2 linked regions of the Homo sapiens genome follow. The protein of the gene in region 2 interacts with the protein of the main gene of each other region in a pairwise test. Each region holds a gene or a part of one and is shown on either strand. Other genes may lie near its edges.

The links. Proteins that work in one complex are often made in the same cells at the same time.
Region 1: the proteins of MYH3 (region 2) and DYSF interact in a two-hybrid assay, tested with the Homo sapiens proteins (one large-scale study listed by BioGRID and IntAct).

The regions. Positions count from the first base shown.
Region 1 is NC_000002.12:71,469,699-71,473,198, forward strand, and holds part of DYSF (dysferlin), read left to right. Parts: intron 1-3,500. UniProt on the Homo sapiens protein: Key calcium ion sensor involved in the Ca(2+)-triggered synaptic vesicle-plasma membrane fusion.
Region 2 is NC_000017.11:10,653,803-10,659,920, forward strand, and holds the start of MYH3 (myosin-3), read right to left. Parts: upstream 3,508-6,118; 5' UTR 3,487-3,507; exon of another isoform or gene 3,434-3,486; intron 2,347-3,433; 5' UTR 2,288-2,346; intron 1,271-2,287; 5' UTR 1,263-1,270; coding exon 1,059-1,262; intron 1-1,058. UniProt on the Homo sapiens protein: Muscle contraction.

The DNA of each region.
Region 1 (3,500 bases), on a different chromosome or scaffold from region 2:
CACCTCTATTAATAGTAGAGGCTACTAATGAATACTTCTCATTCTTTTGTTTTTCTATTAATTAATTCATTAACTAAAACTACCATGAGTAACTGGGCCATAGTAGATATTTTTGACTGATTGTGTCAACGAGCAGCTTAATTTCCTATAGCATTTAATTGTCTGTACTTCTTTTCTGCCCTGCCCATTTTCCATTCCTTAATGTGATTATTTATATCCCTCTATTCATGCAGTTAGTTCATTGAACAAATATTTACTGAGTACCTACTACGTGCCTGGTGCTTTTCTAGGTGCTTGGATGCATACAAGAACAAAACCAGATCCCTACTGCTTTAAAGCTGAAACATCTTATTTCCTTGAAGGCCAGATCTGCTGCGTCCCCACTTGGTGAATTTCTGCCCTGTGTCATCAGCCAGGAACCCAGAAGTCATTACTGACACTTCCCTCTCTCTCATCCTGTCAGGGCGTCTCCTCCTCCAGCCTCCCCCTCCCACCTCTTCTCTTCTTGATCTCCTGGGGGTCTCTAGATTTGGGGCAGGAGTTGGGGGATCTTATAGAACTAGTTGGAGGTGGATTCCTGTCGTCAGGGAACACTCTTAACTCACCTATGTAGGGAAAGTGGGCTGAAGGCCCCGGACTCTCTGAACCTAGCTGTTTACATATTACAAATGACTTAAAATATTGAAAACAGCGGCCAGGCGTGGTGGCTCACGCCTGTAATCCCAGCAATTTGGGAGGCCAAGGCGGGTGGATCATGAGGTCAGGAGATCGAGACAATCCTGGCTAACATGGTGAAACCCTGTCTCTACTAAAAATACAAAAAAAATTAGCCGGGTGTGGTGGTGGGTGCCTGTAGTCCCAGCTACTCGGGAGGCTGAGGCAGGAGAATGGCATGAACCCAGGAGACGGAGGTTGCAGTGAGCCAAGATTGAGCCACTGCACTCCAGCCTGGGTGACAGAGTGAGACTCCATCTCAAAAAAAAAAAAAAAAAAAAGAAAAGAGCTTTCTCTTCTCTTCCTTCTTTCCTTCCTTCCTTCTTTCCTTCCTTCCTTCCTTCCTTCCTTCCTTCCTTCCTTCCTTCCTTCATTCCTTCCTTCTTTTTTTTTTTTGAAATGGACTTTCACTCTTATTACCCAGGCTGGAGTGCAATGGCACGTTGTCGGCTCATTGCAACCGCCGCCTCCCAGGTTCGAGTGATTCTCCTGCCTCAGCCTCCCGAGTAGCTGGGATTACAGGCACCTGCAACCATGCCTGGCTAATTTTTATTTTTATTTTTAGTAGAGATGGGGTTTCACCATGTTGCCCAGGCTGGTCTCAAACTCCTGACATCAGTCAATCCACCCACCTTGGCCTCCCAAAGTGCTTGGATTACAGGTGTCAGCCACCCCGCCTAGCCTGTTTTCTTTTTATAAACATAATATGTACTTGCTGTTAAAAATGACAAACTACAGAAAGGCCATGAGGCAAGAGTAAAAAATAGCCCCAAATCCTGCCACTTTGAATTAACTTGTTAACAATTTGACACATTTCCTCCAAGATTTTTTTTCTTAAAAATTTTAGTTATAAAATTTAACATACAAGGAAAGTGCAGAAGATATAAATATATGATTTAATACAGTAGTTCTCAACTGGGGGCAGTTTTTTCCTCAGATGACATTTGCCAATGTCTGGAGACATTTTGGGTTGTTGCCACAGGGGTTGGGGGCACAGGGTGTTTATCTACAGGGTAGAGGCTGAGGATGCTGCTAGACATTCCACAGTGCAAGGGGAGGTCCCCCACACCAACCACAGAGTGATTCAGCCCACATAGTAATCATGCCACGGTTGAGAATAAATATGTGTGTGAAGAGAATAACTATGTAATATCACCCAGGTCAAACAGGTCAAGAAATAGCACCTGGCCAGCCCCATTTCTCCACCAGAAGTAATCCCATCATAGATTTTTTTTTTCCCAAATGTTTGCACATTTGCTGAAAAATAAACCAGGGGGCCGGGTGTGGTGGCTCACGCCTGTAATCCCAGCACTTTGGGAGGCTGAGGTGGGCGGATTGCTTGAGGCCAGGAGTTCCAGGCCAGCCAACAGGGTGAAACCCTGTCTCTACTGAAAAATACAAAAATTAGCCAGGCATGGTGGTGTGTGCCTGTAATCCCAGCTACTTGAGGGGCAGAGGCACAAGAATCGCTTGAACCCAGGAGGTGGAGGCTGCAGTGAGCCGAGATCTCACCACTGCTCTCCAGCCTGGATGACAGAATGAGACTCAGTCTCAAAAACATCAATTAATTAATTAAAAAAAAATCCAGGGTCATTTTTTATGTCAGTAAGTATTCTTCTATAACACCTTTATAAATATCTGCGTAATATTTTCTTATATGGATGCACCATCATTAATTTACTCAACCCCCTACTGATGAATATTTAGGTTATATAAGTGTTTATATTTATATCCAGTGCTTAAATTATACAGTCACTGTGAGGCATATTCTGGTGACTACATCTTTGGCCACATATTTAATTATTTCCTTTGGGTAAATACCAGAAGATGAATTGCTATGTCAGAGGTTATAGACAGATTTAATGCGTTGCTGCATTTCCCAAATTGTTCTTGAAGTCTGTATCAACTTTATCCTCCTGTCAGCCAAGTATGAGGGCTTATTTTTCTAATAATCCTGCTAACACACAGCATTGTCCTGTAAATCTTTGACACTTTCTTTCTTTTTTTTCTTTTTGACAGAGTCTCATTCTGTCGCCCAGGCTGGAGTGGAGTGGCGCGATCTCGGCTCACTGCAAGCTCTGCCTCCCGGGTTCACGCCATTCTCCTGCCTCAGCCTCCCAAGTAGCTGGGACTACAGGCGTCCACCACCACGCCAGGCTAATTTTTTGTATTTTTAGTAGAGACGGGGTTTCACCATGTTAGCCAGGATGGTCTGGATCTCCTGACTTCGTGATCCACCCGCCTTGGCCTCCCAAAGTGCTGGGATTACAGGCGTGAGCCACCGCGCCAAGCCAACACTTTCTTAAGGTTCAAATAGTATTTGTGATACTTCATTGTTATCACCTATTCGTATTTATTCTTACTGAATTACTTTTTCATTTGCCCATGGTGGAGCATGTTTGTCTTTTTCTTCATTAGTTGCAAGTGCTCTTTATGTATTGAGAATGTTACCGTTTTTGTCATAGATGTTTCTAGTATCTTCTCCAGTTCTGTTTGTTTTTCTTTAATTGGCAAGTAAAAATTATATGTAAATATCTTCCCCAGTTCTAATGTAAATATCTTCCCCAGGCCTTCTGAGTTTAAAGACTACTCTTCTTGAAGTGCATTTCACCCTGGCTCCCTCCCTTTTTGGCCACTTCTGTGGTTCCAGCTAGGATTTAGGAAGGTGGGGTGGAGGGTGGTTGACGGGGAGAGGAGCAGTGCTCTGCTGATGATAGGGGAGACAGCTGCCCAGTTCTTGGGGTGTCCAGGCCTGAGAACACCATGGCAGGGCAGGTGTCAGAATG
Region 2 (6,118 bases):
TGTCTATGATGGTCTCTTAGGTTCATCTTAGATTATCATTCACTGTATCTAGCTTCCTCCTTCCCTGACGTGTTAGCAGCCCATTCTTAGCTCCTTATTGGAAATACACAGAGAGCCACCTTTTCGGAGCTCCAATGCTTGGTAGCACTGCAGGGCGGTTCTTATTTTTTGGGGGGACCGAGTCTTGCTCTGTCTCCCAGGCTGGAGTGCAGTGGCGTGATCTAGGCTCACTGCAAGCTCCACCTCCCGGGTTCACGTGCAGGGCGGTTTTTAATGCCTTTTTTCCTTCATGCCCAACCCAATGATAGTATTTCCTTTACTTGTCTCTTTTATTTTCTTTCTTTCTTTCTCTTTCTTTCTTTCCTTCCTTCCTTGCTTTCTTTCTTCCTTCTTTCTTTCCTTCCTTCCTTCCCTCCATCTCTCTTTCACTCTTTCTTTCTTTTTTCCTTTTTTTGCTTTTTACTTTTCTTGGGACTTTTCCAGATTCTCCTGATGTGGATTTTAGAAACTAGTGAGCTCCAGAATTCCTCGCAGCACCCCCACAGTGGCTTGGGCCAGAATGTAATGGGCTGCAGTGCTCATCCCCTTCATGATACAAGGAGGCTGCTATTTCACTGAGCTTGTGGTCCCCTAGGATCCCTAACACATTTTCCTTACTTCCTTGGTTAGATGGCCATTGATAGAATAATTTGGGACAAATCTAGGCTACCAAAGGAGAGTGTTCTGAAACAGCGCTCATTCATGTTGAACTCCCAACTCCACACCCTTGGGACACGTGGAGCTGGGCCCCTCTGGCCTACAGTGAACGTGGACAAAAATACCTGAAAACTAATTGTTTTAATCAGCCACAGCCAGACTCTATTCCCACCCTGGAACCTGAGGCCAGTATTCACTCTGCTTTCTCTGAGGATACCTGGGAAGCCCCAGGCTACATTGTATGCGGCATTCCAGTGCTGGAACCACATCTGGAAGTGGCTGGGGTTGGGCAGATGCATACCCCAGGCAAGCACAAGGACCAGGTGGAGGGCCAGCAGCCTGTGGAGGGTACAGAGCCTTACCCTGTTGTCCTCAGTTTCCACAGTGACCTTCCCATCCTGAGAACTCTTGATTTTCCCCTTGGCATATTCTTCCTTTGAGTCCACCACGAAGCAATACGTCTTGGCATCAAAGGGCTGGTTCTGAGCCTCGATCCTCTCCTTTTCTGACTTCCGGAGGAAAGGAGCAGCTATGCCGAACACTTCCATTTCAGTGTCACTACTCATGGTGTCAGCTGGAAGGCAAACCCACCCGGTGAGCTCAGCAGCCCCCTTGCCAGGCACCCAGCAGCTCCAGGCCTGTTTCAGCCTCCACCCTGCCCTCCTTCAGCCGCAGGAGCCCTCAGAGTCAGGGCCCCAGGAACCAGGCTGTCCTCATGCCTTGAGAAGCTCCACCCAAAGGGCTTCAGTGCTGGGAAATCACACGGGTGCATATTTATTGAGGGGCTTCTTGTGCGACAGTCTTACAGCCTATTTAACCCAAGCTCCTCAAGCATCTGAGGCTTGAACTGGCGATAAGGGGTTTGGAAGTGAGCACCACTCTTGGGACCGCCTTTTCCGCTTCTGTGACAACCAGGTGTTGCTGAGGGAACGTTTAAAAATAAACACCCTTAAAAAATAAACGCCATCTTCAAAGAGAGTGTGCTAATGGCAAACAGCAAAGATATTTTTGAACCATTTCAATCAAGGTGGCTACACGCTCGTATGCGGGAACCTGCCTTTTGCTTCCTTGGGTTGCTAAGAACAAAATCAAGCATCTGACATCAGCATCTGTTTGACAGTCCCCCAAATGCCACCTCCTCTCCCGCCTGACCTGTCCTTGCCTTTTTTTTTTGAGATGGAGTCTCACTCTGTCACAGACTGGAGTGCAGTGGCACGATCTCCACTAACTGCAACTTCTGCCTCCCAGGTTCAAGCGATACTCCTGCCTCAGTCTCTTGAGTAGCTGGGATTACAGGCACTTGCCACCACGTCCTGCTAATTTTTCTATTTTTAGTAGAGACGGGGTTTCACCATGTTGGTCAGGCTGGTCTTGAACTCCTGACCTCATGATCTGCCCACCTCGGCCTCTCAAAGTGCTGGGATTACAGGTGTGAGCCATTGCACCCGGCCACGACCTGTCCTTGTCTAAATGTGCTAGTTCCCCTGTCCCTCTGTGCCCTTATGGCCGGTGGGAGGAGGGAGAAAGGAACTGGCAAGCTTGGATTGCCTGGAGATCTCCAACAGCCGAGGGACAGGGCCCAACTTCTCACCTGAGAGTCCCACCTGCAGGATGAGAGCAGAAGACAGCAACAGCCAGGAGATCCCAGACCTGGAAGAATATGCACATACACAACTTAGCGGCACTTGGGGTGGCTGCGTCCATGTAGAATCGGCTTCTGACGAGTTAACTAAAAAGGATAAAGGGGCCAGGCGCCATGGCTCACGCCTGTAATCCCAGCACTTTGGGAAGCCGAGGCGGAAAGATGGCCTGAGGTCAGGAGTTTGAGACCAGTCTGGCCAACATAGTGAAACCCCTTCTCTACTAAAAATAAAAAATAAATTTAAAAAATTGCTGGGCGTGGCGGCAGATGCCTGTGATCCCAGCTACTCTGGAGGCTTAGGCAGGAGAATCATTTGAACCTGGGAGACAGAGGTTGCAGTGAGCCGAGATTGTGCCATTGCACTCCAGCCTGGGCGACAAGAGCAAAATTCTGTCTCAAAAAAAAAAAAAAAAAAAAAAAAGACTAATACTTTAAAGAGGCAGGCTGGAAGATGGAAGAGCAGATGGGACGTGACCCACAGGAAGCCAGGCAGGGAGGAAAAACCCTCAGCTGTGCAGAAATCTGGTTTCTCTCAGCCTGCACTGGCACCTTCTTCAGTCTTCCTCACTCCCATTTAGAATCGGACAGCAGGGACCGCATCCCTGCTTAAAGTCAACAGTTCGAGGGCAGGGGCAGGTCTCCTTGTCTGTGAACAGGCAATATCTCTGAGATTAATTTACACGCAATGCCCACAGCCAGTGTGGTCTTGAGAGGACAAGACACCTGGCAGATGTACAGCCCAGGTGGGGAAGGTGAGGGCAGAGTGAGGTCCCCAGTCCTGTTGACCCTTCATGGGTCACAGAGGCAATGGGAGAAGGTCAAGCCATGGCAGCTGGGCTCACGGGGCATCCAAAAGGATCCTGCCCAAGAGGACACTTGGAGAGGAGGACAGGGGAGAGTGTGTGGAGGAGAGAGAACCTGCAGGGCTCCTGCTTGGGGGAGGTGCTGGAGCCAGAGGGTGCTGGGTGTTTGGGCCCAGGGAACCTCGCTCTCTACACCTTGCTTATCCTAAGAAAACTCAGAAAGGCATGAGGCGCCACCTCAGCAGAGCCAGGCAGGGCCAGGGAACCACGCACGGGGTGTGGATGTGCTCACCGGGTGGGTGTGCTCCAAGCAGCTGAGACCTAGAAGAGGAGCCTGTGACTTACCTCCGCCCACAAGCGAGCCACAGAGGGCTGGCTGCTCCCCGGGGCTTTTATAGGCCATTGGTAACCCCCGCGGCTCATTCCTTCTCTATATTTGGCAAGAGGATGAGTGGCCCCCCCAAGCCGAGAACCAGCTTCTTCCACACGTATCTTTGTCGTTGCCAAGGGAAAGGTATAATTAGAAATGAGCAGGATCCATCACCATTTTCCGACCGCAGAATGTCAGGAGCTTGGGATGCCTTTCTCTGAACTTGGGGCCGGTGCTCCCTCCCCTGATGGGATGGGATGGCCTCACTCCAGGAGGAGTTGCGGGGGCAGCCACCTCCGTTCTCAGGCGCTCATCACACCCTGAACGCGGCGTGAGCCCCTAGCTATTGGGCACCAAGGACTGAAGTCGGGTGGCTTACTTAGAAATCTCATCATATGGAAAAGTGAATAAGACTGAGAGTGAAAAGTTGAAATCCTTTTTGAATTTTGAGCAAGATTTTATCACAACCTTGGGTTGTGATTGCAAAACCTGTGCCAGGAATAATTAATAATAATAATAATTAATAGCAATAATTCCCCTCCCCCCTTGCCCTCTTCTCCCTTCTCCTCCTTCTACTCCTCTCCTTCTTTCTCTTATTTTCTCCTATGCAACGTTCTGTCTCATTAGTATCATTATTAACTTAATTCTTTCTTAAGCTCTAATAGGACCAGCCAGTTAAGTTAGTGACGTGGATCTATGCTGCCAGCTCGTATTCCCGGCGACAGCTGCCTGAGGACCTGTGGCTATTAAGACAGATTACCAATTAGGAAAGACCAGCTGCTGGCTGGGATGGGGTAGGGGGAACGGTGGTGGCCTGCAGAGAAAGGGCGGACAAGGGGGGGCTGTCTAACAAATGTGGTCATCTCTAAATCAGGAGTGGAAAAATAAAGCCTCAAGAGAAGAGTAAAGTATGTCGGACGCTTTTGCCCATTCTCGTTCTACTTTTTTTTTCTTGACAAATCTTTGGGAGGATGGCTGGGTGGGCACCCTGTGGTTGCTTATTCCAAATAGAACTGTTTGTCCATGTTTCCCATAGAAACCGCCCCTTCCGTACACAGCAGTACCAAGCCCCGAAGTGGAGGCCACTCCATGAGGTCTGCGTGGGACCGGGGAGGCAGGGCTGCGGTCTCAGGGCAAAGGCACGTGTATGAAACATCCTCTGTGCTCTGGCCCTTACACACAGTGCTTCGAGAAGACGCAGAGGAAACAGAAGACGCAGCCTTTACCCTTAAGGGTTTGAATTCTAGATGATGAGTCCTGTGGATGCTACAGACGCATTTACAAAATTGAGGTGATTTCACATTGAAGCAACAAGTTTATGAAGCGCCTGTTCCGTGAATGCCAGGCAAGGCCAGTGGCCGCCAATGGAGTCAGTTGGGCAGGGCTCACTCACCCCTTGCCTGTCCACCAGCCACTGAGCGTTGCCCCCACCCACTGCCCCTCTCCCTCCAGGTGAGACTGACATGTCCATCCTTGGAGCCCCTCCTCATCCAAGGAGAGGGTAACCGTCACTCCTAAAGTGTCCGTCCATGTCGTAAAGGGAGTGGTCCCCTGGGGCTCTGCCCTGTTGGCCCAGTGATGCACTGTCTCCTTGGGAGTATTGGTCAGGACAGCCACGGACAGGTAAATATCACCGAGGGGAGCAGCGGTGTTAACAAGGTCCGTGGGGTCAGGGGACAGGGCAAGCTGTCCTGGCTACATCTCCAGCAGTGGTGTATGCAGGGCAGGCTGTGGGTGTGGCGGGGGTGGACGTGGGAACTTGCAGTTCCTACGTCAACACCCAGACCTGTTGACAGGAGGAACTGTGTGGAAATGAAATAGGGGGCAATTTTGCTTTTTCCCTTTTGCAGTGACCAATGTACTCATCTATCTATATAACTACATCCATACTCACCTCCAGGAGACAGAAAAGAAATATTCCCTTCAACATTTCTTTTAGTTCCCTTAAGAGAGCACCCATATCACGTTAGGACCTAATACAAGCTCTAAAATGCTGATGGCTTCTCGCCTGGCTTTCCACACTGTCCTTGTTTCCTTCCTTCTCTTCATCAGAATTCTTCATCTTCAGCAAACAAATATAAGTGAATCTAGGAGAAAACGTCACAGACTCCTAGAGTGTTCAGCTGTGAGATCTTGGCAGTTTCTTTTAGTCTGGATCATTCCTCCTATCTTACGTATTTATTTTTCAGTAATATAGACATCACTGGACACTTTTTATGTGTCAGGCACAGAACCCAGAACTTCCAGAGTGCTCCACATGGAGATGGCCTGGTCCCTGCCTTCAAAGAGGCATTCGTCTGTAGGGCTGAGAAGAGGAAGACACGTTCCCCCAGATGAACTGTGTGGTACAAGATCAAAGGTGTTGAGTGGACCAGAAAGGCACCCATGCTGATCGCGTTCAAATGAGGGAGAAAGAACACCCTGCTGAACCATCTCTTTGGCTGAACTGTCTCCTTTTCAGATGAGGAAACCGAAGGCAGGAGCCACAGGAAGCTTGCTGGAAGCGGTGAGAAGAGGGCCAGCGTCAGGGATAGAGGTCAGCTCTCCAGGAGAAATCCCGCAGTGGCTGGAAGGGACAGCACCCACGGCAGTCTGGAGAGCAGTTGA